6 separate regions of the Homo sapiens genome follow, and all the other regions are linked to region 2. Evidence: fine-mapped expression QTL. A gene starts in region 2. Each other region holds a variant in brackets. All regions are shown on one strand. Distances are from middle to middle. Region 1 overlaps IFIH1 (interferon induced with helicase C domain 1). Region 2 holds the start of IFIH1 (interferon induced with helicase C domain 1). Region 3 has its middle 7.1 kb from the start of DPP4-DT. Region 4 overlaps IFIH1 (interferon induced with helicase C domain 1). Region 5 overlaps IFIH1 (interferon induced with helicase C domain 1). Region 6 overlaps FAP (fibroblast activation protein alpha).

Region 1 (5,149 bases), 24 kb after region 2:
AAAAAGCACTGGAACACTGGACTTGGATTCAGAAATGAGGATTCTGCCCCACTGTAGCTGTGTGATCTGGATATATCAGTTAACCTCTCAGCGCCTTGGTTTCTCACCTATGAAACAGGAGATAATATGTATCTACCACACAGAATGTTGAGAGATTAAAATGAAATTTACATTACATCTGTGAAAACTCTGAGTTCAGTGTCTTCCTGACACATTGGTGATTGGTTTGTTAGATCAAAATAATCCAGATAATAGACTTTATTAATAATACCCTATTTTGGGTAGCAACTTTTAAAACAATTCATCAATTATTCGTGCACATTGCATAAATAGCTCCCTCCCAAAACTTACGGATGTTAGAACAAAGCTTGGGAGAAATCTTGACTCTACATGTAGATGAAGTAGGTTTAAGATTAAAGTTTAACTGCTAGTGATTAGAAAATGAAGTGGAAATCAAATATAATTTTCATTTTTATTATACTTGGAAAATTTAATGATACAGTCTTAGATTTTAGATATTTGTTAGTATTTTTTCAGTAATTTTGGTATTCTCTTCAGTTCTCAATATTACATTTAAAACAGCAAATGAAAAGCATGTCAAAATTCACTTTTTTGCCTCAAAAATCTTAGCCTATATTTCTAGATCTAGAATTACTCTTGCAATGACATTTTCCCCATCTCATTTTACACCTTGCCTTTTCCTTACAAATCATATTCTCTTTTCATCAGTACATCTGCCCAAAACGCTCTTCTACTTGACAGTTCTATCCCACATTCGCCTCTGAGCTTCTAACAAGACATACCTCTGGGAATTGCGAGGTGCCATATTTTAAATCTCTCAGTGAGATATACAGGTTTTCCCGTGTGATCATAAGGGATTCCTCAAATCTGAGTTTTAGAACTAATCTGCGACAACTGATAAGCACAGTATTTTCACATTAGTATATTTATGTTGTGCTAATATACTTAAACAGTATGTATGTCCATTGAGAATTTTTCTACAAATTTCTTATCAGCTTACTTTTAATTTTTAAGAAAGATACCTTACATATTTGATTGGCATTGGCTGTAATTCTGTTATAGCTCTTAAACTAAATAGGCTCATCCAAATTGGATGGGAGATGTAAATGTCACAGATTCTCAGTGGAATACTAGTCAGCAATAAAAAGGAACAAATTAGTAATACACACAACAACGTAGATGAATCACAATTACTATAAACTAAGTTTTAAAAGACAGACATAAAGGCTACATATTGCATGAATCCATTCATATGACATCCTGGAAAAGGAAAAACTATTGGAACAGAAACCAGATCAGTGGTTGCCACTGGTTGTCTGATGTGGAACAGAAACCAGATTAGATAACCAGAGGGATTTACTACAAAGAGGCTTGAGGAGACTTTTGGGGTGCTGGAAATACCTTAACTGTGATGGTAGTTGCGTAACTGTATACATATGTCAACCTCTTCAAAGTTGCAAAACTGTATACATTTGTCAAACTTCTCAAACTATAAACATAAAAAGTAATCTTTTTAGTAAGTAAATTATATCTTAATATAGCTGACTTGAAAAAATTAACTACTTAAGGAAAAAGGAAATATTTGCAGTTTTGAGTTGTATATCATCTCTTTTCAGAGAAGTTTTATTAAAACATACTATGTGTCTATTTTTTCATCCATTTTTATTTCCAGCCATAAATATGACACTCAGACTAGTTTTAAATAGCTAAGAGCTACCTCATTGGTGTGTTAAGAGGCTTTAGGATGAAATATTATCTAAGTATAAATATTATAAAATATTTTTAATTAAAAGAAGAACATTATCTAATGGAACTCCTATCCTAAGAATATATCATTTCTTGATTTTTATTTCATTTTCTAATTGCCAGCAATTAAAGTCCTGTGCCAAGAGCTTGTTGTACCTAATATTACTTAAAGATTATCAAGGGCTGTGAAGTAAGTGGGATTAGCCTCACTTTAAAACAAGGGGAACTTGTTAGGTTCAGAGCAAAGTGAATAGCAAATTTTGCAAGTCCTTCTGATTCCAAAGCCAATATTAGTAACCACCATTGCTTTATTTTTACCAGTTTAA[C/T]GATAGTTCTGGTGCTTGAGGATGAGGTTGTGTAAGTGTTTGGAAATAAACTGTAAGAAAAGAATTCTTCTCTGAGGGAAAGAAGGTTTTCAAAAAGAATTGATCCTGAGTTCTGAAAACAGAATGTCAGGATTCATAAATGAAGGATGTGCACTGCTATTCATCCATATTAACCATAACTCTTTGATAGAGGCTTAATCTAATTATAGTAAAGAAAAACAGTTATTTCCAACCTCACATGAGCTTCTAGTACAACTGTGATGCCAGGCTTTAGTGATATTCTTTTTGAACAAATTCTCTTTGAGATTTTACATCTATGTTTATCACCAAACTATCATTTTCATAACTGATCAGTAGATCCAGGTACTTTATTAATTTTTGTACTTTATTAATTCCCTATCATTTTAAATGAAAAGACCTCAAAGGTTTCTATGTATTATTTTTTGTTTAAAAGACATATCAAACCTAAATAGTGTTTTCTTGGGCAACATTTACATGTAGAAGGGCAATAAAAGTTATAAACCCTTAGGAATTTGCTTTAGCTCTCATACTGGATGTGTAGTACTTTAAGTAGGTAATATGTATTTGAATCACTACCCAGCAGCTGCTCATCCATAGTGGATTTTTCTTAATGTAGCCTGCCAGAAGCGCTTACCTTTTATTCATAATTGTCTGGGTGTGCCTTCCCCACTTGAATTGAACTGTATGTACTGTGTGCTGTAGAGGTGTGCAGTTAAAATACGTTTATTCTCAGAAATATTTTAAAAATATTTTAAAATGTTTTCCTTTGCAGAATCAGACACAAGTTTGGCAGAAGGAAGTGTCAGCTGCTTAGATGAAAGTCTTGGACATAACAGCAACATGGGCAGTGATTCAGGCACCATGGGAAGTGATTCAGGTACTGCCTAACTGTTGTGTAAACCTTAAAAAGTGTGAAATAAGACGCCATATAGTGGAAGCATGGGGGCTGTTCATACCCTCCCTAATGTATTTATGCAATTAAAGCAATTCTTTTCTACAGTGAAATAGTTTTGGAACTTTGCCATTCACTTTCTTTAAAAGTGTAACTTACAAACTCTTAGAACCAAACTCTCTAATTTTGATCCAGTACATATCTTTCTGGTCTGGCATATGCCACATTCCATAGAGTCATGTCATCTATTTTATTTATGGGATCTGTTTCAATTAATTTGACTGCATTTAAATAGACTGTATTCAATTTGGTACATTTATTTACTTCCAAATTCTACTTTTTAAATTAAAATACTTTTTAAATAAAAAATTGATACTATCAATAAGAGAAGTATGACTAACTAGAAATTACATATGTAAGTAAAAGAAGTCAAGTTTGTATAAGTATCTTTTGAATAGGAGTAGAGTTGGCAAAATATTTCGGTCACTAAATGAAAATTTTACCAGGTTTTTCCCAAATTACTTTCAATATCAGTTGTATATTCCACCAGCAATAAATGAGAGTGCCTCTTCCTAATTCCCCACACCTTAATTATTACTTCCTGTTATCAGTTTTCCAATTTGTTAGTCTGATAGATTTCAAATTGTTTCTTTCTTTTCTTTGAGTGTATATTTCCATGATGACTACTAAGCTAAAATGTTAACATTATTAAATGTAGGTGATGGGTTAGTGGGTTTCTATTACATACCTTTCTATATTTGCCTACCTGTTTGAAGTATTTCACAATTAAAATGAACAAATCACAAACAAAAATAAAATGCTTTGCAAGGGGCCAGCTAAGAAGCATTGGAAAAATGATAAATTAAGAAACACATTACTTTATTCTTCATTTGTGATTGAGTTGTTTCCCCTAAGAATATATTATATAATTCAGATTATCCTGCATTGTCAGAAGAATTATAAAAATTGATATCCACAAGAGGCCTAAGGTGGCAAAATAGTTTATAGAAAGATTGTCATCAATCCTAAATGCTTTCCAAATTAGATTGTAGCACCTCTTTTTTCATATATCCTTTTATCACAATGACACTCCTGAATCCCTTAGAACAAATTAGTTTGAGGAAACCCAATTCACCAAATGTCATTCACAACTTTAATCTTCATTTAAAAGGGTGAATTCATTTTCTGTTCAATTCAGTCAGTGTTTATTGAGTTCTTGCCATGTGCTTATTTCTGTGGATTATATTTGTTTTTTCTATCCTTGTCATAAAATTGTTCAATTTAATAATTAACATTTCTATTACATGCTATGCTAGAACTCAAAATAGATAATCTAGCTAATATTTAACATCATTATAGGTTGTTTTAAGTTTTTGGAGATCATGCTAATTTTCATTTGTCTAAGTAAGGGCTTTTCAATAATATCCATTCATTCAATAAATATTTAATGTGTACCTTCTATGTGCAGGGCATCTTGCCTATTTAGAGCTGTTAACAAATGTATTTGCTGATTTTTAGTCCTCAATGTGGCATGAAACACATGATAAGTCTGAACGCAATCTACTTTTGAAAAGCAAATACATTTTCAAAGGCAAATACATATTTGAAGACAAACACATCAGAACGAACACCACTTGAAGTTCTAGATGGATCAGTACTTAGGAGCAAAGAATTACTTTGCCTAGTGGGTAGTCAATTTCCGAAATGGTAAAATTATGAAATTCCTTGCCCACAAGTGCCTGGTATAAGCTAAAATAGAAACCAATTCAAAAGGAGGTTTAGATAAATTGGTGAACTGTTAAACACATATTGAGGCACTGAAAAGTATTATAGAATTTGCAATTGTGTTTTAATCTTTGAAGTTGACATCAAAAGGGACTTCATTCTATATGTCCTTCCTCCTCCTCCAGAGGTCATATATGGGCCATAAGGTGTGACCCAAAACAATCATATTATATTCCTTTGTGGAAGTGTTATGCCATAGTAGACATGATTACCGGTACTTTTAAAGTATAAATATTCTAATTATATTATGAGAGGCTTTTTTTTTTCTGTTTCCCATTTTCAGAAAGATATATTGCCTCTCAAAAAGTGGCAATGTTTTTGGCAATACATATTGGCCTGATATGTAGAAAGTGTTTCC
Region 2 (5,149 bases):
AAATATCTTTGGTTTAAATGTTTATTATTTGAGAACAGGTCAAATACCAAACATTTGATCCTTTCTCTTCCAGAGCAACAATTAAGTGGTATGAAGAAAATAACATTAACTGGTTCCCCATATTCAGTCAGCAACCCCTTCTCATTCCCCCATGTTTGAAACCAAGAAACAGAAGGATAAGTGCCAGGAAAAAGAATGTTTTTTGGTTTGTTAGTTTGTGCTTTAACATGTTGAATAAAACCCACTGGCAGCTGGGGGATAGGAGTATGTTTTTGCAACAGCCTTAAAAGATATTTTCATAGACCCAATACTTAAAATTAATAATTTGAGTGCTTTTGTAGAAACATCTAATTGGATTATCCTCTATCTGGGTACAAGGTCATCTCCCAAAATTAAGTGAAAAAGGAGTAGGGTTCTGTGAAGAAACAGAAAAGAACAGTATAAATCAGGCCTACCTGCAAGCCCAAGGTTTCATTTACTTCAACTTTCAGTGTATTTAACATTATGCCAGCTGCTATGGTCAACTCAAATACAACTCCCAGGAGAGATGTCATCAAGAGCCCACCAGTTGTGAGTAGTGTACTAGTTACTATGTAAATATATCCCTTCTTCAAGCAGCTTACAATCCTTCAGGGGTAGAAAAAGCCTTGCTACATAAGATAATTAGAGAATAAAATAAGACATGTTACCATAAAGTGCTCATTTGGATATTTTGTATGCCCCTAGTAAACACTCACCAAGACTCTGTACTTCTATTATCCTGTTCAAAGCACTATCAGGTTTTCCTGGCCTACACAGACTTTATTGAATGTACTTTGCTAACAGATTATTTTTCCTAAATATGTCTCTTTGATAACCTAAATGATCTCTCCATCCTTTATATAATTCTGGACCATGAGATTCTAGTTATGGTGCGTATGTGCCTACCACCCACAGTCACATGTGGCTACAGAATGCCTTCAGAATGAGTAGTAACCTTAAGGACTCACATTTATGTGGCTTCTGTACCAAAATGAAGCTGCCATTTTTCAGTGTGAATATGTTTTTTTTCTCTCATGACATAGACAAATGTTGATGTTTACTACAAGTTGGTACATTAGTTGCTAATTAAGTTCCTAGCTGCTCCAGCCAAAACTTGCTGTATTGAATCCAAGAAAAGAATGGCAGCTATATCAAAAATAAGTTGTTGGGGGATTTTTTTGTTTTGTTTTATTAAAGGAAAGTTGTATATTAAAGAATATAGGGAACTTACAAGCTGGGATCTAGGAAACTTTAAGTCTTGGCTTCCTTCTAAGCTGAGTTGGTGGTTCAAGTCCATCCACATCTGTTACCAGGTCCTGGTCAAAGCTGCATAAATACCAGCAATCTAAATATGAGGCAGTAAAGTTAACTGTTTATTGTTACTCACTTTTTCGAACCCACCTCCAAATTCCCAGGGAAACAAGTTAGTGTTTGGGAACCCACAGGAGGTCAGGTTTATTTTAGGAAGGACTTCCTCCTGTCTTCTCCACATCTCTGCAAAGATGTCTTCTGAGCTTCATCTCTCACCTGTCCCTCGCAGTCTCACCACCCTCAGCCAGGCCTGCCTACATTCACCAGCCGAGGGTAACTCCCTGTTCACGTCCGGGTCTGTGGCAGTTTCTGTTCACTTCCCCTTTGGAAAGTCCCAAATCACATGCTTTTATGCCCTGCACATTTTGGCCTACAAAGGACCTTATTGTTAAGGCAGAACCTGCTGGGAAAACAAAATATCCGCCGGAGGAGCTTTGCTAGAGCGTTGGTCTTGGTGTCAGAGAGAATTCGCTTTCCTTTTCTGTTTCCCGCGGTGTCCTTAACCAAAGGCCTCCTCTCTTCACCCGCCCCGACCAAAAGGTGGCGTCTCCCTGAGGAAACTCCCTCCCCGCCAGGCAGATTACGTTTACAAAGTCCTGAGAAGAGAATCGAAACAGAAACCAAAGTCAGGCAAACTCTGTAAGAACTGCCTGACAGAAAGCTGGACTCAAAGCTCCTACCCGAGTGTGCAGCAGGATCGCCCCGGTCCGGGACCCCAGGCGCACACCGCAGAGTCCAAAGTGCCGCGCCTGCCGGCCGCACCTGCCTGCCGCGGCCCCGCGCGCCGCCCCGCTGCCCACCTGCCCGCCTGCCCACCTGCCCAGGTGCGAGTGCAGCCCCGCGCGCCGGCCTGAGAGCCCTGTGGACAACCTCGTCATTGTCAGGCACAGAGCGGTAGACCCTGCTTCTCTAAGTGGGCAGCGGACAGCGGCACGCACATTTCACCTGTCCCGCAGACAACAGCACCATCTGCTTGGGAGAACCCTCTCCCTTCTCTGAGAAAGAAAGATGTCGAATGGGTATTCCACAGACGAGAATTTCCGCTATCTCATCTCGTGCTTCAGGGCCAGGGTGAAAATGTACATCCAGGTGGAGCCTGTGCTGGACTACCTGACCTTTCTGCCTGCAGAGGTGAAGGAGCAGATTCAGAGGACAGTCGCCACCTCCGGGAACATGCAGGCAGTTGAACTGCTGCTGAGCACCTTGGAGAAGGGAGTCTGGCACCTTGGTTGGACTCGGGAATTCGTGGAGGCCCTCCGGAGAACCGGCAGCCCTCTGGCCGCCCGCTACATGAACCCTGAGCTCACGGACTTGCCCTCTCCATCGTTTGAGAACGCTCATGATGAATATCTCCAACTGCTGAACCTCCTTCAGCCCACTCTGGTGGACAAGCTTCTAGTTAGAGACGTCTTGGATAAGTGCATGGAGGAGGAACTGTTGACAATTGAAGACAGAAACCGGGTAGGTGTCTGTTCAGATGGAGCTAGCCTTTTAGGCAGATTTTGCAAAGCAGGCTTCCTTGTGCGTTTGCCCCTTTCCAAATGTGCTTGACCTCTTTGGGCAAATCTAGTTTCTTCCTTTGAGAAGACAACATCTAGGCACTTTAAGACAATTTTAAAAATTTAAACACAAAAGAACTACTTTTCTAATGTTTTCACTGAAGTAAAAAGGAGTTAACTCTAGAATCGTAATGTGTATTAACAGGTAACTTTTATTGAACACTTACTATGTGCAGTTGGTATCATTTTCAAAATGTATTACTACAGTTCATGTTCAGAGTAACCCACTGAGGCTCCTAATGTTATTAACTCCATTTTACAGATGAGAAACCTGAGGCAGGTTAAATAATTTGTCCAAGGTCTCCCAGGAAAAACAGTGGCAGAGCTAAGAATTTAGCTTGTGATAGTGTTGAATGTTTTTCTTATTTAATGTAGTTCCATGGAGCAGGGGTTAGTAAACTACGGCCCATGGGCTAAATCAAGCCTGCTACTGTTTTTTTCAGGCCCACAGGCTAAGAATGGTCTTCAGATTTTTCAATTTTTAATTTTCAGTGTTCATAAAGTTTTATTGGAACACAGTCATGCTCGTTTGTTTACATATTGCTTGTGGCTGCTTTTCTACTCCAAAGGCAATTGGATGGAGACTGTGTGCCCTTAAAGCCAAAAATATTTATTATCTGGCATTTTAGAGAAAAAGTTTTCCAATCTTTGCCCTACATTACACTTTGTGCCATTTAGTCTTAGCCCAAATGGGTAAATTGCAATCACACACACACACACACACACACACACACACACACCCTTTTTCTTTAATCAAAGTTTCAACATTCTTTGAGAATCAAAATTTAGAAACAATTCATTGAAAGAATGTGTTGCTAGTTTCAGTTTTTCATGTTAGTGAAGAAACTCATTTTTCTTAAGGTAGCATTTTGACAGGGCGAATTTTACTGATGACTTTACATTGAATGTGATATGAATTATTTTTTGATAAGTGAAGATGTACTGTGATGTGTATAAATGCTGACCTGTTTGAATGTGACTTATTCAGGCTCGTAAGTCAAAAGTCTTGTTTTGGAAGACATGTAGACAAATAAAGCCATGACTAAAAGTCAAAGGCTTTGTCTACACCACTCTATGATTTTCACATGGTTTTTTTCTCTCTCTCTCTTTTGGGTCATCCATTGTTTGTATATTCATACAAACTTCTGGGCATTTGATTGATTTGCTATAGCCTATGATGCAATTTAGTCTTTAGTGAATAAAGTTAGTGATCTTTTGTAGACTTGACAGACACAGGGCCTGTCCAAAGACCCAAACATGCATCTAATTTTGATGGCCAGTTTTCCCAACAAGTAAATTACTTTGCACTGTTGTCTGTAATGTTTATGTCGTTTTGTGTATTGAGAACCAGCTAGAACGCATTATAGTAGTCCAGCTGGATATGACAAATGTGTACATCACTGTGGCAGAATCTTAATTTGGAAGAAAGTATGCAGCCTTCAAGCCAGCTGGAGATGGAAGATGGCATTTCCAGCCACAGTAGCTGTTAGAAGTCCAGAAGCAACAGAGTCCAGTAACACCACAAAGCTGTTTATGTTTGGTGGGTATGATGTCCCGATTGCCAGCGAAACAGCACTTCTCCCTATTTACTCTAAATACTTCTGCCTATCAGCATCACTTTTGTCTTGCCTGGATTGAATTTCCGCCAGCTAGATTTTATCCAAGTTCTTGATTCTGGCAAGCTTGGAGGCAGCTAGCAGTAATGCAAGGGATTTGACACAAAGAAGATATAGAGTAACGGGACTTTTGTGTACTGGTAGCAGTTAAGGCCAAAACAACCCAAATTCTCCCTCTGATTCACATTTCAAAGGAGGCCCCAAAAGACTGAGCAGCTATAAATTTGAGGCTCTCTAGGAAGCAATAGTTTCTCTGTGAGAGTGTGGAATAATTTTTGTGTGCATCATTTACATGTATTATCAGTTCCAAAACTAAGATATGGTGGACAATGAGACGGAAGCATTAAGTTTGGTAGAATAATCTATATTGAGGTGGTGGTCATTGACAAATGTTTATCTTACAGCAGCAAAGTGTGATAAGACTGTAGAAGGGGAACACATGGATTTGAGGTCCATCTTGGCTTCTTACTATATGCGTTACTTTGGGCCAAATTACTGAAGTTCCCTGATGCTACATTTACCTGTGAAAATGGACATCATAAAATTTCTCACAGTATTTTAGTCAACATCAAATCAGAAATAGTGTTTATGAAAAAGCTTATAAATCAGAGCTATTTGATATGATAATGGTGTTGACTTTTG
Region 3 (5,149 bases), 240 kb after region 2:
AGACAGGGGAAATGAAGGAATGAAAGACATGGCATCCCAAAATATGCCAAATTGGTATATTGATTATTTCAAGTTGAAAGCATTGGGAGAATTGTAGCCTCAGTAAGGGTTAGTTGGCCTGTCTTTTCCTGCTTGTGGCAAGCCATAGATTCCTCTGGGAAGAATATTTCTTGTTGGAGCAAGAAAATAGAAATATTTCTTACTGTGGGAGGAATATTTTCTTACTGGAGCAAGAAAATAGCCCTTGTCAACAGAGACTGGTGATAGGAGGCTGCAATGAACCTGAATAAACATACTTAATGAAGTAGTCCTTATCTTCCAGTAGGTTTACACCCTACCCTCATGTATCTCCTAGTGACTCCCCTAGAAATGTACTGCTCTTAGTCAGATTCCCTTTGTCCTGTGATTTCTTCTCAGATTTGTCATTCTTTGTCTAAAAAGTATGAAAGTATCTTGCTTTGGCCACTTCAGACTTCAGTCTCTTATGAAGATCCCCATGTACATGAAAAACCAATAACATCTGTTTACTTTTCTCTTGTTAATCTGCCTGATATCAATTTGGTTTCTAGATTCAGCTCTATGGCTGAATCTAGAAGAGCTACATAAGAGCTACAGGGGGGTTGGAGGTGATCTCTGGCTCCCCTACCCTGCCACCACATCTAGCCCATGTTCACAGCTTGGAGAACACTAAGGAGGAGACATCATTGTAGCTACAGACACTTTGTGAGAATCAGGCTCCATGGGTTTCAAACACGTTCTCTTCATTAAGTCATATTTTTTTTCTTAAGTCAGGGGCTAATATAAGCAAATTCTTCAAATTAAAAAACCCACAGAATATCCAAAGGATACCATCCAAAGAGGAGCACAAAAGTGCCCTTACCCCTTGGGTTGGTTCTAGTCTGAAAGGTAGAAAAAGCACTCCTTTACGGAGTGCTGAGTGCTAGAACAATCCCTCATTTGGTATTACTGATAATTGGGGCAAGGAAAGCACCATGACCATAGCTGAGAAAAAGTTTTTAGAGTTATATTTTAACAAGAATAAATAAGCATGGTTTACATGCTTGTACAACAAACTTTGCAGAGAGGCACTTACCCAATTAATTTTCTAAGACCAAGAGTTTACTGACTCTCCCCCCAGTTTAAGTTCTTCCCTTTCTCATTCCATCCAACAGACACTATTGCCTTTTTTTTTTTAAATCTGAAGTATAAGTCTGATTGGGTTTCTTTCCCAGGTAAAATTTTAGTGGCTCCTTGGTATATACTGAATATTGAACTTAAGACAAGAATATGTTCATGACCAACTTTCATTTCCCAATACTTTCTGGAATACTCTATATCCTGGCAAAATGCAAGTAATACATATTCCCTAAAGATCTTCCAGCTTTCTTACTCAAGCCCTTATGTGTGTTATCCCTTGGGCCTGAAACTTCCTTTCATCTATCAAAATCCATAGGATGATCTAGCCAGCTAGTTGTCATCTATTAATACGTATCTCTTTGTAGAAATAAATTTTGTTAAAGGTTGGTTCAACCTGGAACACAAGCAGGGTAATCTTCTCAAGTATGGTTGGTAGGGAAAAGAGAAAATAAAACAGAAACAGACGGTGAAGATAACCTGGAAGATGTGAGACTTGATCTTCAGTCCAAAGGATATGAAATGTGGGGTTTGGCACTAAGGCAGCAGGAAGTCATTCCCACACAGGTAGAGCAGCGTTCTCTGATTAGGTGGAGGGCAAATGTCCACTGATCAAAGGAACAAATAAGTACCCTTGTATTGTCCTTTACATAACCTTCAGAACTGAGGGCAAGAAGTAAATCTGTTCCTTTCCATCCCTGTTCCCCACCACTCCTCACCTCCCCACCCTCCACCCTGCCATCTCTCCACATATGAGATCCTATTTCTTTCTGTCTTCTAGTTGCAGCCCCCAAGAACACAGAGAAAGATTTGATCTTAACTTTTCTTCAGTTATCATTTCATTTTTTAATTTATTTAACCAACAGTTACTGACTGCTAATATATTTAAGGCACTTTACTAGGCACTGGAGAGAATGATGGATGAGAAGATAAAGGAATAAAGGGAATGTTTCCAGTCTCCATAAGGAGATAGTTTAGCAAATAATAAGTACTATATGGAGTTGCCTGGTTATGTGGCTCTTTTTCAAGTTCCCCCTCCCTCTATCCATTCTCCACCCTTCTCTTCCCTGCATTGCACAGCCTTGCAGGTTGATCCCTGAATATACATTT[G/C]CTATTAGCCAGGCTCCTTAGCCCTCTGTCTTTATTGGGCTCAACAGATGGGAGGAACGAGCAAGATACTGAAGGGAGAGAAGAGAAAGAGACTGAGGTATTTACTCCTTAAGCTTTTTATCTGCTTTATTGTGCTGCAATCTGGCAGTGGCTGTATCCCTCCAAGGCTAGAGTTCACCCTAGGTAACCCCAACTCCAGGACTCAGGTTCTCAAAAGGGGATATTGCCATAAACAGTGGCAGGAACAATATGATAATCAGGGCTTTTGACTTCTATGGTGGTGGCTCATTTATCACGAGATACTTAAGAATGAAGTCAATAGGTAGCATTCTAAATTATAGCTTGATTTAAATGATCAAAAGAATTCTAGGTGTAATGGGCAGAAATTTGACTTAAGTTTTCATAGTAGTAATAAATGGACTCTCATCAAGTTCTCAGACTCAAAGCAGTTAATAGACCCAGAAAACCTTGTTTGAAATGGAGGTCAGATCTTTTTCAGGAGGGACTCTGAAATGCTGTCACAGTACACACCTGACATGTGACTTATAGCCAAGTTTGAAAATGCCCCATGAAAAGGGACATTCTCAGACCTCCCTGGAGTTATTAAATATGGGCCCTGGGTTTATGCCAATTTTGATGGAGTTAAAAAGATCACTGTTGTCCTGCTTTATGTTAAGTTTCCATCTGCTACAGTAACAAGTTACCATAAACTGAGTGGCTTAAAACAACATAAATCTATTAACTTACAGCTCTAGAAGTCAGAGTCTGAAATAGGTCTTCCTGGGATAAAATCAAGGCATCATCAAGGCTCTGTTCCTTCTGGAGGCTCTAGGGGAGAATCTATTTCTTTGCTTTTCCCAGCTCTTAGAGCCTGCCTACATTTCTTTGCTCATTTATCCCCTGACCCAGGAAGGGACATTAAGGTAGATAGGAAAGACCAAGTGGAAGACCCTGGTACTGTCCCTGCACAACAATATGGAAAACTAAAAGTAATACTGCATCTCTAAGTGCAGAAATTAGTGCCACTACGTAAAAATCTGAAAGATGCAGAGGTGCTATTTCCCCCATCCCATACTTAATTAACTTTCCCATTTAGCTTGTGCAAAACTAGGATGGATTATGGAAAATAACTCAGTTGCCATTTCAGATGTTTAACTTTACTGAATCAAACAACATGGACATCTGAGCTGTTCACCTGCAAACACTTTTTTCCTTGAGTCAAATTAGTAAGAAGTATCTAAAATACTTTGCCTTCACCTGGAAGGAACAGCAGTGTATTTTCACTATCTTACTCCAGGGATATGTCAAGTCTTGCTTTCTGTCATATTAAAATCTCCCAAGACCTTGAGCATCTTGCCATCCCACAGACCCACATTAGTCCACTGCATTGATAACTATGCTACATGGACTTGATGAACAAGAAGTAGCAAGTTCCTTACATGCTTTAGTAAGACAAATGTGGACACAGGGTAGAGAATAAAATCCGTGGAAAATTTGCAGAGTTTCAAGGGATTCAGTGGTCTGGAACATGTCAAGGTATCCTTTCTAATGTGAAAGACAAGTCACTACACCTTGTACATCCACCATGAAGAGGAGCACTATTTGCCAGAACTCTTTGGATTTTTGAGACACCATATACTATGCTTGGCTATACTTCTCCAATCATTTACTCAGTAACTTTAAAGGCTGCCTGTTTTGAATGGATCCTGAAGCAAAAGAAGGCTCTGCATGTTTAGGCTATAGTGCAAGTTGTACTTGGATCTTATGACCTAACAAGCACAATACTTATTTAAAATGTATGTGGCAGCCGGAGACACTGTATGAAGCCTCTGGCAAAACCCAGTGAGAGAATCACAGAAGATATATGACTCTTAGAGAAAAGTCATATACTCTTTGCCAATTTATTAGTTATCTACTGTTGCATAATAAATTACTTCCAAAACTTTAGGGGCCATCTTGGAGGCTGCCTACAATAACCAGTGACAATTCACTACTTAAAAAGTGGCATCTCTCTTGCTACTGGGATCCTGTAGAGACTGAAAGCATGATCATGGATCAAGTATATTCATTCATTCACTAGGGCTGCTATAACAAAGTACCACAAACTGGGTGGCTGAAACAACAGAAATTTATTATCTCTCAGTTCTAGGAGCTATAAGTCCAAAATCAATACATCACAGGATTGGTTCCTCCTGAGGACTATGAGACAAAGAAAGATCCACTGTAATATGGTTTGGCTGTGTCCTCACCCAAATCTCATCTTGAATTATAGCTCCCATAATTCCCATATGGTGTGAGAGTGACCCAGTAGGAGGTAATTGAATCATGGGGTACAGGTCTTTCCCATGCTGTTCTCATGATGGTGAATAAGTCTCATGAGATCTGATGGTTTTATAAAGGGGAGTTCTCCTACACAAGCTCTCTTGCCTGCCACCATGGAAAATGTGACTTTGCTCCTCATTTGTCTTCAGCCACGATTGTGAGGCCTCCCCAGACATGTGGAACTGTGAGTCAATTAAGCCTCTTTCCTTTATAAATTATCCAGTCTTGGGTATGTCTTTATTAGCAACGTGAGAACAGACTAATACAGTAACCTGGTACCAGGAGTGGGGTGCTACTGTAAAGATACCCAAAAATGTGGAAGAGACTTTGGAACCTGGTAACAGGCAAAGTGATATGGACAATAAAGTCCAGGCTGAGGTGGTCTCATGCAGATGAGGAACTTGTTAAGAACTGGAGCAGTGGTGACTCTTGCCATGTTTTAGCAAAGAGACTGGTGGCAGTTTGCCCCTGCCCTAGAGATTTGTGGAACTTTGAACTTGAGAGAGATTCTTTAGGGTATCTGGCAAAAATTTCTAAGCAGCAAAGCATTCAAGAGGTGACTTGGGTACTGTTAAAAGCATTC
Region 4 (5,149 bases), 49 kb after region 2:
GGTGGTTGAGGAAGGTCTCTTAGAAGGAGTGACAGGGAAGCTGCATCTGAATGATAAGAAAATACAGAATATGTCATCTAGCTACATCTCAATTTACTAACACACAGTTATTTGAGTTGTGCAAAGGAATGCAGTGAAGAAAGAATGTATTTCTATAGTATTTCAGGAAATCCCCCATACCACTGAATTAAAAACTGTAACTACTATAATAGCAAACAATCCATTTAGAAGAAAATTCACACCCTTGCATATGGGTGTGAATGTTAGTTTCTTAACATTGGAATTGGCTCTACCTTAAATAGAGTTTCACTAAAGGGATGCTTTCAAATTGGTGTGCATTGCTATTACCAACTCCAAGGTTTCCTGACCAGGTTTCTGCACAAAACTTTATTTTAAAACCCCTTTAAATACAAGGCAAAGCAAATATTTTAGAGTATCAAATCAAACTTTTGTCACCAAATTATGCCACTGGAAAGTTACTGCCTCCCAGTTAATGTCCTAAGAGAATTAATCAAGTAGATGTTTACAAAGACTGATGTTTTAAGAGTAGTTTTTTGGGGGTCAACACTAGGACAATCTCTGGAGTTTAAGGGTCAAATTCTTCCAGACATTCTTTAGAATAAGACTCTGTCCCTTTGGGTGCCCCAGAATGGACTATATTTTTAGGTCTCCTTTGGCCAAGAAACCTGCCCTCCTAAAACTACTTCAGGTAGATGAACTTAGAGTAGGAGTGGCAATGGGGAAGGAGGGCTACATGCCACCAGTAATCTGTTCAAAGCCTGTAGAAAACATTGCTACTGGGAAGATGTTTACTTTCTTCTAATTTGAGCATCTTTCTCAACACAATCTTCAGACAACCACTAATGAATGATGAGAATTGACAGATAAGATGAAATCTTTCTTCCATGTCATAAACACAGTTTAAACATAACAGAGCTTCTTAAAATTAAATCAGACTTCTAGGAGCAAGTTGATCATCATAAATGTTTTTCTCTAGCATTGATTCAATTTTTTTGCTACATTATTACACTTTATTTGGACTTAGGCTGATTGTAGCTGTGCCTCCTGTATATTTATTATGAGTTCTTTTTTTTGTTTGTTTACCCCTCTAGTTACTTCAAATTCCTTTACTATTTTAGAGTTAGTCTTTTAGCTTCTGATGTCCTGATTACAAATCCATACACTTACCTTGGCTTTATTTTTTTTCTGACTCATTCATACACATTTCTTAATTCCCACATGTATGTGATCCTATAATTACCTTATCAGCTCATTGAACTGTAAATGTCTTATAAAAGTAACCTATTAAAACTTTTAGGGAAAAATATTTCAGTGTATTATTTTGCTATAATTTACATAGGAAATTAATCTTGGTACTTGTCTGATTAATCTATTATATAGCCTCCAGGCTTGCTTGCAAGGTTTTATTCTCTTTTCTATGCTATATATGGCTGCCTTGAAGGGAGATCTAAAATGTAGAGTTAGAAGCCAAAGAGATGGGCTTTGTTCAACTGCACTGATGACTTACTTTTACTGAAAATTTCTCCCTCGGTCTTAAAGAAAACAATTAATTCTTCCATAATTTAATATAAATATGTCATCTATGAGAGGTCAGTTTGGCGGTAAATTATTCAAGAACCAGATTTTTCTACCGTGAAGTTGTGTTGGTATAAACACTGTTCAGTCCCTATGTCAACTTTCATATGTTACATAAACTAGATTATTTCCATTATAAAATAAGTGCTGCTGCTAGTCACAGAGCATAGAATAAAGAGGTTGATGGGCATATTCTCTCACAGAAGGAATCTAGGCAGTATTGGCTCCATGAAGTTATGAGGAATCCAGGCCTTTTCTCTCCTTTTTATGCTGTTATAGCATTGGGCTTTCATTCTCATGGTCGAAGATGGCTTTTAGAATTTCAGCTGCCACATCCTCATTCTAGGCAGGAAGTAAGAGGAGAATGGAAAGGGCGAAAGGTACACATGCCAGCTATCTAATTTTTAAGAAGATTTTCTGAAAATTCCACTCAACAGCTTTTTACATGTCATTGACTGCTGGTTTGGAAATGTAGTCATTTAGCTAGCATATTTCCACCCAGAATAAAATTATGGTTCTGTTAGGAAAAATGGACACTGAATGAAAAACTAGTGGTTTCTGCTACAAATGTGTAAAGAGTAGACTGATTAAGATGGTGAAGGGTCTGAAAATTATAAAGCATGAAAAAAGATTAAAGGCATTTGGGTGCTTAGCATAGATTAGAGAAGACTTGGTAATGTAATAACAGTGTTTAGTAAAGAGATTCCATGTGGAAGGAAGTTTAGACCTATTTTATGGAACAGAATTAAAACAAATGGGTAGGCTGGCGCAGTGGCTCACACCTGCAATCCCAGCACTTTGAGAGGCTGAGGCAGGTGGATCACTGAGATCAAGAATTTGAGATCAGCCTGGGCAACATGGCAAAACTCCATCTCTACTAAAAATATGAAAATTAGCTGAGCATGGTGGCAGGTGCCTGGAATCCCAGCTACTTGGGAGTCTAAGGCAGAAGAATCCCTTGAACCCAGGAGATGGAGGTTGCAGTGACCCGAGATAGTACCAACACACTCCAGCCTGGGCAGCAGAGCAAGACTCCATCTCAATAAATAAATAAATAAATAAATAACAAATGGGTAGGCTAGACAGAGAATTTTTGTTGAATATTGCTAAGGACTTTCTCACAATAGAACTTTTCTGAAATGGAATGGGCTACTTTTTGAATACCTGAAGACTGCACATTTTCATGGTTACAGGAGATGATTATATACCAAATTCTTTGGGGGGTCATTACCTCATTATTTTTATTTCCTAGACCATAAGCTAAGGGTATATTTTCACAACTAAGACCTCCAAATTTCAGGAGACTTACTTCTATGAAACTGAAAAAAGAAAACAAACCTGAAACCACTAACTATTCCTTTCTCTGTCCAGATTTTGGAATTACAGATGCAAAGTATAATGGAAAAGAAAATGAAAACCAAGAGAAATATTGCCAAGCATTACAAGAATAACCCATCACTAATAACTTTCCTTTGCAAAAACTGCAGTGTGCTAGCCTGTTCTGGGGAAGATATCCATGTAATTGAGAAAATGCATCACGTCAATATGACCCCAGAATTCAA[G/A]TGAGTCCAGAAAGACCCATTTTTACATTTTTCCACAAGGGGTGAAGCAGGTTGCATTGTAAATGTTCTTTCAAAATAGTGCAAATGAGATTCATTTATTTTACAACTTCCTCTCCTTTAGCCTCTCAATTATATTCCTATTTTAAATGTCTATGTTTTAAATAAACTGCACTGGGGCAGGAAAAGAGAAGTGTAAGAACCAAAGCCATTTTGATCCAAGGCACGTATTTTTGTATGCTCATCATTTGTTCTCAAATTTTTGAACAACTAAAGTCAAGTTAATATAACCAACAGACTTGAAAGAAGTTATGAAAGGCAACATGCCCCTTGAGAGGTATGTGTAGAAGAGAAGCATTGCCTTAGTTGCAATAACAAGCCTGGGAAGCAGGAGGGAAGGAAGGAATGCCGTGTAGAATACCGCAGGCATGCGGATGAGCTCCAGGTCCAATAACCCATGAACTACACACTGGTATTTTGTCAGTTCTCCATGATGATTCTTTCCCTTTGATACTTATAGGGAACTTTACATTGTAAGAGAAAACAAAGCACTGCAAAAGAAGTGTGCCGACTATCAAATAAATGGTGAAATCATCTGCAAATGTGGCCAGGTGAGTAAATTGCTGTGGGCCAGATTTTACTTTAGCCAACAGGAATGTTTAATTGCATGTACATTTAATTTTCCTCTTGCTCTCTCTTTTGTTTTCCAGGCTTGGGGAACAATGATGGTGCACAAAGGCTTAGATTTGCCTTGTCTCAAAATAAGGAATTTTGTAGTGGTTTTCAAAAATAATTCAACAAAGAAACAATACAAAAAGTGGGTAGAATTACCTATCACATTTCCCAATCTTGACTATTCAGAATGCTGTTTATTTAGTGATGAGGATTAGCACTTGATTGAAGATTCTTTTAAAATACTATCAGTTAAACATTTAATATGATTATGATTAATGTATTCATTATGCTACAGAACTGACATAAGAATCAATAAAATGATTGTTTTACTCTGCATTGAACTCTTTTTAAGAACACAATATATTATGCATTATCCATCTTATTGTTGGGCAGAGGTAAGGAAAATCTACCAATAATTCTCATTAGTGTGGAGCATTATAGTCCTGTGGAAAGAATGCTGAAGTACAAATGAGAATCCAAAGTACCAGTCTCAGTTCTGTCACTAATTTTCAGAATAAAATTAGGCAAATCAGTTCATCTTTCTGAACCAGTCTCCTTATCGATGAAATGGTCATAACATTCTCTAGTTTTACTTTTTATTAATTTTCTATTGCTCTATAACAGATTGCCACAAAGGTAGTGGCTTAAATCAACAATCATTAATTATAACACATGTCCTGTTGGTCAGAAAGGCAGGGTTCTTTGCTCAGGGTCTCACAAAATTGAAATTGAGGTGTCAGCCAGACTGTGTTCTCATCTGGAGGCACTGGGGAAAGAATCCACTTCCAAGTTCATTCAGAGTTTTGGCAGAGTTTGTTTCCTTGCAGCTGTCTGACTAAGATGGCTGTTTTGCTGTCTGTCCACTGGGGATCGCTCCCAGCTCCAGCAATGCCCCTACCACACAGCATGCTCAAGCCTCTTTCCCAGCACAGATATTTGCTTCTTCATGGTCAGAAGAAGAATCTCTCTCTCAAGTCTGCTCAGATGGAGTCTTAGATAGGTTAACTGTAACCATAGAAGTGACTGTCTCATCATATCCGTAGGTCCTGCCCACACTCACCGCAAAGGGATTATTCAGGGAATCACCCCAGCCAGTGGGAATCGTGGGGACCATCTTAGAGCTTTGCCTCCTACATCACTTGCCCAGTCTTTGCAACTAAATGATATCATAGGAAAGTACTTTAAAAACTGTGAAGTACCATTAAAGACCAGTTAAGAAGCAGCATCAAGTAGCTTAAGGCTTCCTTCCTAGGCCTTCCCTTCCACAAACATAACACTATGTTGCAGAACTACCTAATGACAGAGTAGTGGCTAAATCC
Region 5 (5,149 bases), 40 kb after region 2:
CAAAATCATATCATAAAAATGATGGAGAGTGATATAATTAATGGGAAGTTGAGATAAATAGAATGCCTTCTTTTGAACATCTACTCTTATGGTTAAATTTAATGATCTACCTGATATAGAAATATGCATAAACTATGAAAGTTTCTAGTTGTCACACATAATAAAGTCTTACTCCATGAGTTTCAAAACTGCGTATTTTCTGTCCTTCATATGTTATTCTAGGAATCTAGGTAATTCAAATTAAAGGGAAATAGGGATATGAAGATCTTTAAAGATGAGCTTGTCAGCTGCCCCCTAATGGTAACACCACATACAGTGCTACTGTTAATCTTGAGTGTTAAGTAAATCAGAGTAGCCCAAGAAGTATTTTGGTACCAAGGCAATTGCATTTGAATTTTAAGTCCCTTACTTTAAGTTGAATTCAATACAAATTATGTAGAGTAGACACAACATTCAGAGATGCAATTATAGGCTCCAAAATATAATTTATTACTGGGATTAAGGACTAATTCCAATCTAATAATCAAGGAACATGACTAAGGATGCTCCCAGCTTTATGTGTAGATGCCTGCTTTATGTGTAGAAGAAGGTGGTAGTATGATCCACGGATGTCAAGTTGACCTTTGATATGCCTCATGTAACATGGTTATCTCAAAATCATTCTCTGTCAATGATGGTAAATTGTTATACTCTTTCCATGTCAGTTTTCCACTTGGAAAATGGAATTTAAGGAATGAATATCAATACACCTTTTTCTCTGTTATTACACCAACTTGATTTAGAAGCTCCTTTTTCCTATATTAGGACAAATGTTGCTGATTGTGGGTTAATGAGATCCATAATAAAACAATGTTAAAATGCTATATTTAGCAAGCAATGCTACATATTACTTTCATGAAATTTTATACCACATATTTATGCTACAATTTAATGCTACATATTTTTTACATGAAAAAGAGTTCTACGTTGAATAAAGTGAAAGGGAAAAATAATTGCATAAATATTGAAAAATGTCTCTTTTCCAGCTATGTGCCAATCTTGATGCATTTACTATTAAAACTGTTAAAGAAAACCTTGATCAACTGAAAAACCAAATACAGGAGCCATGCAAGAAGTTTGCCATTGCAGATGCAACCAGAGAAGTATGGGCTTAATGTTTTATATCTATTGATTGACAATACTACATTCAGTAGAAAGATGGCAAAGGCTATTTTATACTGACCATCTGAAAAATATTATTTAAAAATTTTAGCAAACAAGTTTCAGGTTTTTTTTTAATTGATGTTAGGCAGTAAAGCACTACAGTGAATTCTCGCCTCTAGACCTCTTTTAGTTTTCTAATTTACATGAGGAATAGCTTATTCATTGTTTGTACATATGAGTTAAAAGGGACAGTGAGGGGCCATGGGCAGAGGGATGTGTAACTAAGCTGGAGGGGTTATGACAGTTCGTTTTAGCCTTTTTAATTTTCTTCGTGAATTCCAGGATTGATTTTCTGACATTCCACAGAGCCATTTTGTTGCTATCAAATTACATTTGGCAATGATAATGGGAATCCTATCTAATTTGCATACTTGCATATTTACTTTCTTAGGAAAACAGTGCAATGGTAAAGAAGTGAAATATTTACTTTAATGATGCTTTTCTGATGAATTTTTCAGGAATTATAAGAATAAACTGAGAGTCAATTTGGACATTATGGCCAGTAAATTATGTCAATACTTTATTTTGTAAAATTTAGAAAGCATTACAAATTCTGGCCATATGTACTTGATAATACCATTGAAAATAAGAATGTTGGGATCAAATGATATGAAATATGCATAGTAGATAAAACAATGCTTGAAATATAGTAGGCACTAAACCAATGTTAGTAACTAGCCTCCGTATATCTCTTTTTTTAAATTCTGAAAAAGACTGCTATCTACTCCAGCTGCACTAGCACAGTTGAATATATTTTATTCACTTTCCTTTTTTTGTTACTTATTTGGTTTTACTTGATAATTTTAAATGCATGTTTCTACTCATAAAGATTTTTAAAACTAAATTTCTCAGGTACATTTTTTAAAAGAATTTGCCATTTTTTAAACTTACTTTAATTTTTTTATATACCTTGAAGCATAACATACATACAGAAAAGTACAAATTCATATGTGTACTGATTGCTGAATTTTCCTAAACTGAATACACATATGTAAACAAAATCCAAATCAAGAGACAGCACACTGCCAGTATCCTAAAAGCTCCTGGCTCCCCCTTCCAGTCACCATGCCCCAGGAATCACTACTATCTTGACTTCTAAAACAAAAAATGAGTTTTCACTGATTCTGAACTTTATATAAATGGAATCATATAGCATGCACTCCTTTATTTCTGGCTTTATTCAGACTCTACTTCAACTTTTTATTTTGGTCGAAATAATACTGAAACCAGTTTTACAAAGGAGGAATGTTTCTTAAATTACACTGTAAGCTTTCTAAATAATTGTGGCATTAATGCAATATGTGTTTTCTAAGTTACCTTTAACATACAAGGTTTATATAATTCATTAACTTTACTTTTGTTAACCTTTTAAGTTGGAGATTCCAGCAGAGGTAACAGGGTGTTGGTGTGGGTGTGGCTTGATGGCAGGCTTAAAAGAGAAGCTGACAAAAATAAATGTACAGACAAGTGATGGGACACTAACCTGTTACTTTGTCTAAACAAAGATGAATCAGATTTATTATAACCTAGAAATTATTCTAACAAAGATAATGTTATTCCTTTAACAATAAGAATACATAAGAATAAGTGTGTACTTTATTTTTAGGATCCATTTAAAGAGAAACTTCTAGAAATAATGACAAGGATTCAAACTTATTGTCAAATGAGTCCAATGTCAGATTTTGGAACTCAACCCTATGAACAATGGGCCATTCAAATGGAAAAAAAA[G/AG]GTAATTTAGGTTTGGACCTAACACTTAGTTTATCCCATGTTTATACCAAGATTTTAGATGACTATATCACAGATTCCCCAAAAAATGGAAAGCAAAAGTAGTTCCAAATAGAATTTCTGTGTTCTCTGTAGGACAAGCATAATAAACATGTTCTAATTCCTTTTCTAAGGAGAGAGATTCCAATGCTATCCAATTTTCTCTTTGTCTCCAGAGTCTTGAGATAAACTTTAATAGCTCTGTCTCCAAAGGCAAACTCAACTAATATATTTTCATGCCATTTCTCTGTGCATCAGCTACATGTTTTTGCTGAGGCAGAACTCAAGCAGCAAGTCTAGGAGTTGGAAAACTTGCCCTGTTTCAGAGCTCAGGACACATTTTGAGCCTTAACTTGCCCATTTTAAAACCAAGGTGAAGCCAGTTTTGCAGTTAGTAACATATATTCAAGTCCATGGCACAATTTTAGGGGGTTTATATGCTTATTATTTCACTTACATAATATATTTTTTCACAGCTGCAAAAGAAGGAAATCGCAAAGAACGTGTTTGTGCAGAACATTTGAGGAAGTACAATGAGGCCCTACAAATTAATGACACAATTCGAATGATAGATGCGTATACTCATCTTGAAACTTTCTATAATGAAGAGAAAGATAAGAAGTTTGCAGTCATAGAAGATGATAGTGATGAGGGTGGTGATGATGAGTATTGTGATGGTGATGAAGATGAGGATGATTTAAAGAAACCTTTGAAACTGGATGAAACAGATAGATTTCTCATGACTTTATTTTTTGGTAAGATTCAAAGTAACATATACTGGTGTCATTCATTTACCTTTTCAACATGAACTTACTGCTTCTCATAAGCTCTCCAAAAAGAGAAATATCTTTTGAAAGAAGAAATCCCACTCAGATTGGAACTATTTCTAATGATATGACCAGATTAGCTACCAGTTGTATGATCACAGTCAGTCATTTGGTCATTCAGTTTTATTGTCAAGACAATTGTAATGAATTTATTTATTAAACCATCCTAATTATTAGATATAGCGCAAGATTGTAGATGAGCCACAATTCATGAAACCTTCTAGTGTAATTCGTTGTATGTTTTACTAATTTATACTTCCAAATAGTTTTTAAATTAATTAATTTTTAATCAATAAAACTGTATATTTTTGGTGTACAAAATGTTTGATATATCTGTACATTGTGGAGTGGCTAAATCAAGCTTGTTAACATATCAACTCTAATTATTTCTTAAAGAAAACAATAAAATGTTGAAAAGGCTGGCTGAAAACCCAGAATATGAAAATGAAAAGCTGACCAAATTAAGAAATACCATAATGGAGCAATATACTAGGACTGAGGAATCAGCACGAGGAATAATCTTTACAAAAACACGACAGAGTGCATATGCGCTTTCCCAGTGGATTACTGAAAATGAAAAATTTGCTGAAGTAGGAGTCAAAGCCCACCATCTGATTGGAGCTGGACACAGCAGTGAGTTCAAACCCATGACACAGGTATAAATATCCTTTTGGACGACTTCTTTTCTTTTCTTTCTCTTTTCTTCTTCTCTTCTCTTCTTCTCTTCTTCTTTTCTTTCAGACGAGGCCTCGCTCTGTCACTCAGGCTGAAGAGCAGTGGCATGATCAAGATTCACTGCACCCTTGACCTCCTAGGCTCAAGCAATCCTCCAGCCCCAGCCTCCTGAGCAGCTGGGACTCTAGGTGTGCACCACCACACCCAACTAATTTTTTTATCTTTTTTGTAGAAAAGGTGTCCCACTATGTTGTCCTGGCTTGTCTTAAACTCCTGGGCTCAAGCCATCCTTCTGCCTCTGCCTTCCAAAGTATTGAGATTATAGGCACGAGCCACTGCGCTCAGCCTGGACTTCTTTTCTTATGCTGTTATTACTCTTCTCAAATTGTTTTTAGTCTTTTTCTACCAATCCTCTCACCACCCATGAATACATTTACAGGATAAAACACCTGTTCTTGAAATAAAATCTAAGGCTAATAGCAATCAAATCTGTGGTTTTTGAGAGGTTAAGTGTTGTTTTAGGAGTCATTTTTCCCACATAATAATTGGAAGAACTTTCTAAGTTTCCCTTGCAAAAATAAGTGACATGTAAGCTTAACAACAAAGTTCAGAAATGATTGCCATGTAGTATCAAGTGGAAAATTCAAACTCCCACAAAAATGTGTTCGTTATAACTAGA
Region 6 (5,000 bases), 100 kb after region 2:
GTTTTTGGATATTTAACATTGTAGAGTTGTTATACATTCTTTTTATTGAGTTTCACATCTGGAGGGAGGAGACCTGAGTGTGCAGTAGGAGAATGGTCAGGTCTCAGTGAAGAAGCATTATATCCTAATTTCAATGTAAAAATGATATCAGAAAAAATGGAATCAAAGTACAAATTTACCTCTTGCACAAGGAATCGGATGCGATTTTAGAATTCACTTCTTTGTTCTTTGGATGCTATTGCTTTTACTTGCCAAGGGGAATATTGTCGTGGCTGGACACAGTGGGTCCCTGGGTGACAAAGACGGTTGGATGTGGTATACACACAAGTGAATTCTAAGCAAGCCAAAGTGGCCATAGAGAAAGAAATAGAATTGCAGACAGTGTAATATTTATGTTAAAAGTCTAAAAGCTGTGTAAAAACTCTAAAAGCTGGAGATGTTTGGGACAGGCCTCACATTTTGGGGGAACCCAAGATGTAAAAGAACTCAGATCTTTGGGAGGACCTATGGGAGCAGGAAGAGACGGGGAACCCAGAACTGAAGAGTGACTGACACTGATTGGGAAGTTGGGACCCACATTCTCATATTTCCTTGAGGCTTAAGGTTGCTAAAACATCTGGCGTTAGGTGGAGACGTGAGACCATCCCAAAAACTAAGGGAGTTTCTGATAAACTTGGGAGTGAAACGGAGGTCCTAAGAGACGTTGAACAGTTCTTTGGATGAATTCAAACAGCACTGAGTCATTACATACTGTGCACCTACATTTCATGAATTTAAATTTTATTACAACTCCAAGATTCTCTCTTTCTACAGCAAAATAACAGAGGAACTCTAAGAAACTGTCTAGGTATGAGCTATACTGTCATGTAAATTTTAAGCATACAGTAGTATAGAAAGCACAAAACAAGAAAAGTATAAATCTCATGGATACTTCATTTGGAGGTGAAATTTCCCTAACCTTTTGGAGATGGTGGCAGTAATAATGCAAGCAGGTAGGAGACTGAGCATTTGGTGATTGTCCTAGACCAAATCATATGGCAAAAGCAAAAAGTGTCTTTCATTTATTTTTCTTTCCATTCTCCTCTCAAATTAATCACCCTCTGAACTCTCCTTGGTATACAGATTATTATAATTATCCCAATAATAAAAATGAGAGAGATCTGTCTTGGAAATCAGAAAACAGAATATGGTTCACAGAACTGCATTTTCATATCCAAAATGATTTTCCCTATAAATTTTAAAGCTCTCTCATTAGGCAGTTAAAACACATAGTTTTGCTCTGGTTGACACAACATTTGTAATTGCCCTGCAGGTAAAATTGAAATGAGATTCCTTGTCGTGTTATAAATAGAATGTATTCCACAGTGATATACATAAGATTGTTCGCTTAGAAAAATATATCTAAATTCCTAAAGTTTCTTTAAAATGTTGGTGATAATTGGAATTTTATGAGCTTATATATCTCAATTTTCTTGGCAGGCTGGAGCTAAGAATCCCGTTGTTCGGATATTTATTATCGATACCACTTACCCTGCGTATGTAGGTCCCCAGGAAGTGCCTGTTCCAGCAATGATAGCCTCAAGGTAGTTCATCTCAGATCCCTCCCATCTTTCTATCCTATATTCTAGTGCATTTATGCTGTGCATGCTAGAAGCAAAAACAAATAAGTAGATAAGAGTTGCACACAAAGCTAAAGACATACAAAATTAAAATTGACAAATAAGTTTCCTTAATTGGTTTTTCAAAATTAGCCCTTTTACACATATAAACGTGACCTCGGTGATCAATCTCAGTGAAACTTGCCTCAGATGTACAGATGTGAACTTGGGACCAACAAGCAGACAGTAAAATTCATGTACGTCCTCACCCTGGCTTCTTTCAAGTTTGGCTGACTTTATCTCAAGCCAGGGTTTGTGGATCTATGTGGATCACATGTGTATGATAAATAAGAGAAGATAAGCTGACCCTCTCCAAAAATTAGCATTTTTCACAATGAAGCAGGCTATTCTCATTTATCTGGTTTTAGAATTGTCTAGAGATGAACTGTAGGCAGGCAGGGACGTGAAGGATTCTCACTTCCCCAGCATGATGCCCTATGTCTGATTGTCTGACTAGTCCAGAATACAGTGACCTTCAGTCAGTCCTCTGTGGTCTTTCTGGTTGAAGTGGCTAAGGGGAAGAGGTGCCCAGGCCCTGCCTGTTGGGCTTTCTTAACAGTTCCCCATGCCTAGCGGGCCAATCTTGGGTCTTCCCCTTCTGCTTCACGAAGAAGAGCCAAGCTCAAATGACTGATCACTAATAGGGAAAAGAACCCCATGAGAGGCTTCTACTGGGCCTTGCTGAGTCCACTCTTGTATAATCAAACATGACTTTATATTTTTGAATTATCTGCTATTCCCCACCCTGATCGAGTCGATGAAAACTTGACTCAATACATCATTTTTTTTTAAAGTGTCATTCTCCACAGGTGGCAGATGAAATGAGCATAACACAAGGAGTCCAGAGGCTTGTTTGAACAGCTGTAAAATACTAACAATAAAATAGTAGTAGCAAACGTATTCTGAACACTCATCATGTAGCAGACATAGTTCTTAAGCGGTTTAAGCACGCGGCCAATCTTTACAGCACTCTTTAAAATAGGTAATATTATTATTCTGATTTTATATAAAAATAGAAGAGTTAAGTAACTGGCC[T/A]AAAGGTATATAACTATTAGGACATAAAGCCAGGATTTGAGCCTGAGGTCCCTTCCAGCTTTGTGATTTCCTTTACATTAATTTTCCAGAAGTTTGTGATTCATTTTATGTTGATGTTCTCTACCTACTAGTTCATGCTCAGAGTCATGGAATCATCGTTGCCATTCACTGACATCTAGTATGTGCCAAACATTATTTGAGTTATTTCGCATACATCATCTGTGATTTATTCCACAAGTCTGAATTTCAATACCTGACCACAGTCACAGCTAAAACTTAGCTTCCAACATGAATCTGCTGAGAGACAAAGATTATCCTTTTATCACACTTGTCTCTCTCTCAACTAATTATAAGGTGAAAAATTGAGTTTACTTGTGCAAAATGCAAGTTTAATGCTTTTTTTCCCCTCTAGATTGATCAGTAGCTTTGACATTATGTTTTAAATTCTTTTCTAAAATGTTAAAATCCAGAAACGGGGAGAAAACTCACATATGAAATGATTTCATTAGATGAAGAAACTCTCATAGATATTTTTTTAAGTAAGTAGAGATATTTAAACTTTCTCTCCAGAGAAAGGAATGTTTTGTCTTGCTTACCTATTAAATAAGTAATGTATAATAATGACATATATCCTTTAGAAAACAAAAATTAAGAAATTATTTGTGTGTGAAACTGGTTTATGGTTGTGACTACCTGTTTCTATTTTATTTGCAGTGATTATTATTTCAGTTGGCTCACGTGGGTTACTGATGAACGAGTATGTTTGCAGTGGCTAAAAAGAGTCCAGAATGTTTCGGTCCTGTCTATATGTGACTTCAGGGAAGACTGGCAGACATGGGATTGTCCAAAGGTAGGGTATATTAAGATCACAGATACGTATTTCTGAAGATCAAGGCACAATAGTGGGGACTCATCCATAGCTAACATTTTATGTTGTAAAGCCAGGATTACTGCATTCAACTGCCAACTGCTTTGCAAAAACACACTCAGTATTCATGGGTCCATCATTTTATTAAATAAATAGGATACCTTTTATTTTCTTGAATGACGTAAACCTTGAAATTGAATAGCCAAAAAGAAAAAATGGGACAACATGACATTGGGAAAATCAGATATCTGGTTCTCAATTATAATGGTAAACCAGCCCTTTGAGATTATAACATTGGCAGTCCAATAAAAAGCAAAATAATGCAGATGAAACCGAAACATGGGTCTACTAGATAAATATATATGTTTTAAACAAAAGAACCAGAGAAGAAATGCAAATGGGGCATGTTCTATTCAATGTTAAAAATTAAAAATTAAAAATTCTAAAGGAAATGGATATTATCAAAAGAAAGCCAGATATTCTGTTTTTTTTTTTGTTTGTTTTTTGTTTTTTTTGTTTGTTTTTTTGTTTTTTGTTTTTTTTTTGAGATGGCGTCTCGCTCTGTCGCCAGGCTGGAGTGCAGTGGCGCAATCTGGACTCACTGCAACCTCCGTCTCCCAGGTTCAGGCGATTCTCCTGCCTCAGTCTCCTGAGTAGCTGGGACTACAGGTGTGCACCACTAGGCCCAGCTAATTTTTTTATTTTTAGTAGACACGGGGTTTCACCATGTTGGCCAGGATGGTCTCAATCTCTTGACCTCATGATCCACCCGCCTCAGCCTCCCAAAGTACTGGGATTACAGGCATGAGCCACTGCACCCAGCCCAAATATTTTTATTTTAAAATCAAATGAGAATTACTGAGAATGTGACATAAGATATTAGATCAAATTATTCTGTTACCTGGTTATCTTAGGACAGTACCCGACATGTACTAATTTTGGGCAGAAAAAGCCTTTAAAACTAAGCACAGATTTATTGTTGAGTTTTAATTGTTTCTATTACTCAAACTCAAACATAATCTGTTGAATTAATGAGTCAGAAAAACCACTTAACCAATGTATAAGCTTTAAAATAAGCCTGTTCTTAATTACTCACATTAGAATCTAAGAGATACAAAATATTTTCTTTAAATAGGATATTTGATGGGTACATTTTGTGAGTCTTCTAATTATGAAGAAATGTTTCATTAAAACAAATATAGAATAATCATATTTTATAAAGTAAAAAGAAAAGCACAGAACAAACAAAGTAAATCACTAAATTTCATCTAGAAATTAGGACATTATGTTTTGCAAGAAAAAAGTCATATGAGTCTGTTTGGAAATATATCAGGACTATAATAGTCAACATTACTCAGGCTAAAAATATTTCTTTAAATCACTACTGTGTCTGTGAGAGGCTCGACTAATTTTGATGGAATATGCTAGAAGCGTATTTT

What was found. PIP is the estimated chance that this variant, and not a neighbour inherited with it, causes the effect.
Region 1: its variant is fine-mapped to the expression of IFIH1 in nasal epithelium (TOPMed, PIP above 0.99).
Region 3: its variant is fine-mapped to the expression of IFIH1 in whole blood (INTERVAL, PIP above 0.99).
Region 4: its variant is fine-mapped to the expression of IFIH1 in whole blood (INTERVAL, PIP above 0.99).
Region 5: its variant is fine-mapped to the expression of IFIH1 in whole blood (TOPMed, PIP above 0.99).
Region 6: its variant is fine-mapped to the expression of IFIH1 in whole blood (INTERVAL, PIP above 0.99).

The regions. Positions count from the first base shown.
Region 1 is chr2:162,291,406-162,296,554 of GRCh38, reverse strand. IFIH1 (interferon induced with helicase C domain 1) reads left to right here. Exons shown (of 16, transcript NM_022168.4): 4 at 2,887-2,991. Among named protein-coding and RNA genes, the nearest start is that of IFIH1, 25 kb to the left of the region's middle. The variant C/T (reference allele first, on the strand shown) is at 2,094.
Region 2 is chr2:162,315,499-162,320,647 of GRCh38, reverse strand. IFIH1 (interferon induced with helicase C domain 1) reads left to right here and starts at 1,964. Exons shown (of 16, transcript NM_022168.4): 1 at 1,964-2,793. The coding sequence starts at 2,341. It also overlaps a transcript of GCA not described here. RefSeq lists enhancers at 732-1,931, 1,500-2,049 and a silencer at 2,080-2,169.
Region 3 is chr2:162,079,410-162,084,558 of GRCh38, reverse strand. No RefSeq gene overlaps it. Among named protein-coding and RNA genes, the nearest start is that of DPP4-DT, 7.1 kb to the right of the region's middle. The variant G/C (reference allele first, on the strand shown) is at 2,245.
Region 4 is chr2:162,266,096-162,271,244 of GRCh38, reverse strand. IFIH1 (interferon induced with helicase C domain 1) reads left to right here. Exons shown (of 16, transcript NM_022168.4): 14 at 2,968-3,158; 15 at 3,676-3,766; 16 at 3,866-4,171. The coding sequence ends at 4,045. Among named protein-coding and RNA genes, the nearest start is that of FAP, 25 kb to the right of the region's middle. The variant G/A (reference allele first, on the strand shown) is at 3,159.
Region 5 is chr2:162,275,989-162,281,137 of GRCh38, reverse strand. IFIH1 (interferon induced with helicase C domain 1) reads left to right here. Exons shown (of 16, transcript NM_022168.4): 8 at 1,026-1,142; 9 at 2,810-2,933; 10 at 3,445-3,723; 11 at 4,192-4,451. Among named protein-coding and RNA genes, the nearest start is that of FAP, 35 kb to the right of the region's middle. The variant G/AG (reference allele first, on the strand shown) is at 2,933.
Region 6 is chr2:162,212,481-162,217,480 of GRCh38, reverse strand. It overlaps FAP (fibroblast activation protein alpha), which reads left to right. Exons shown (of 26, transcript NM_004460.5): 10 at 1,480-1,583; 11 at 3,408-3,543. Among named protein-coding and RNA genes, the nearest start is that of FAP, 28 kb to the left of the region's middle. RefSeq lists an enhancer at 3,200-3,369. The variant T/A (reference allele first, on the strand shown) is at 2,694.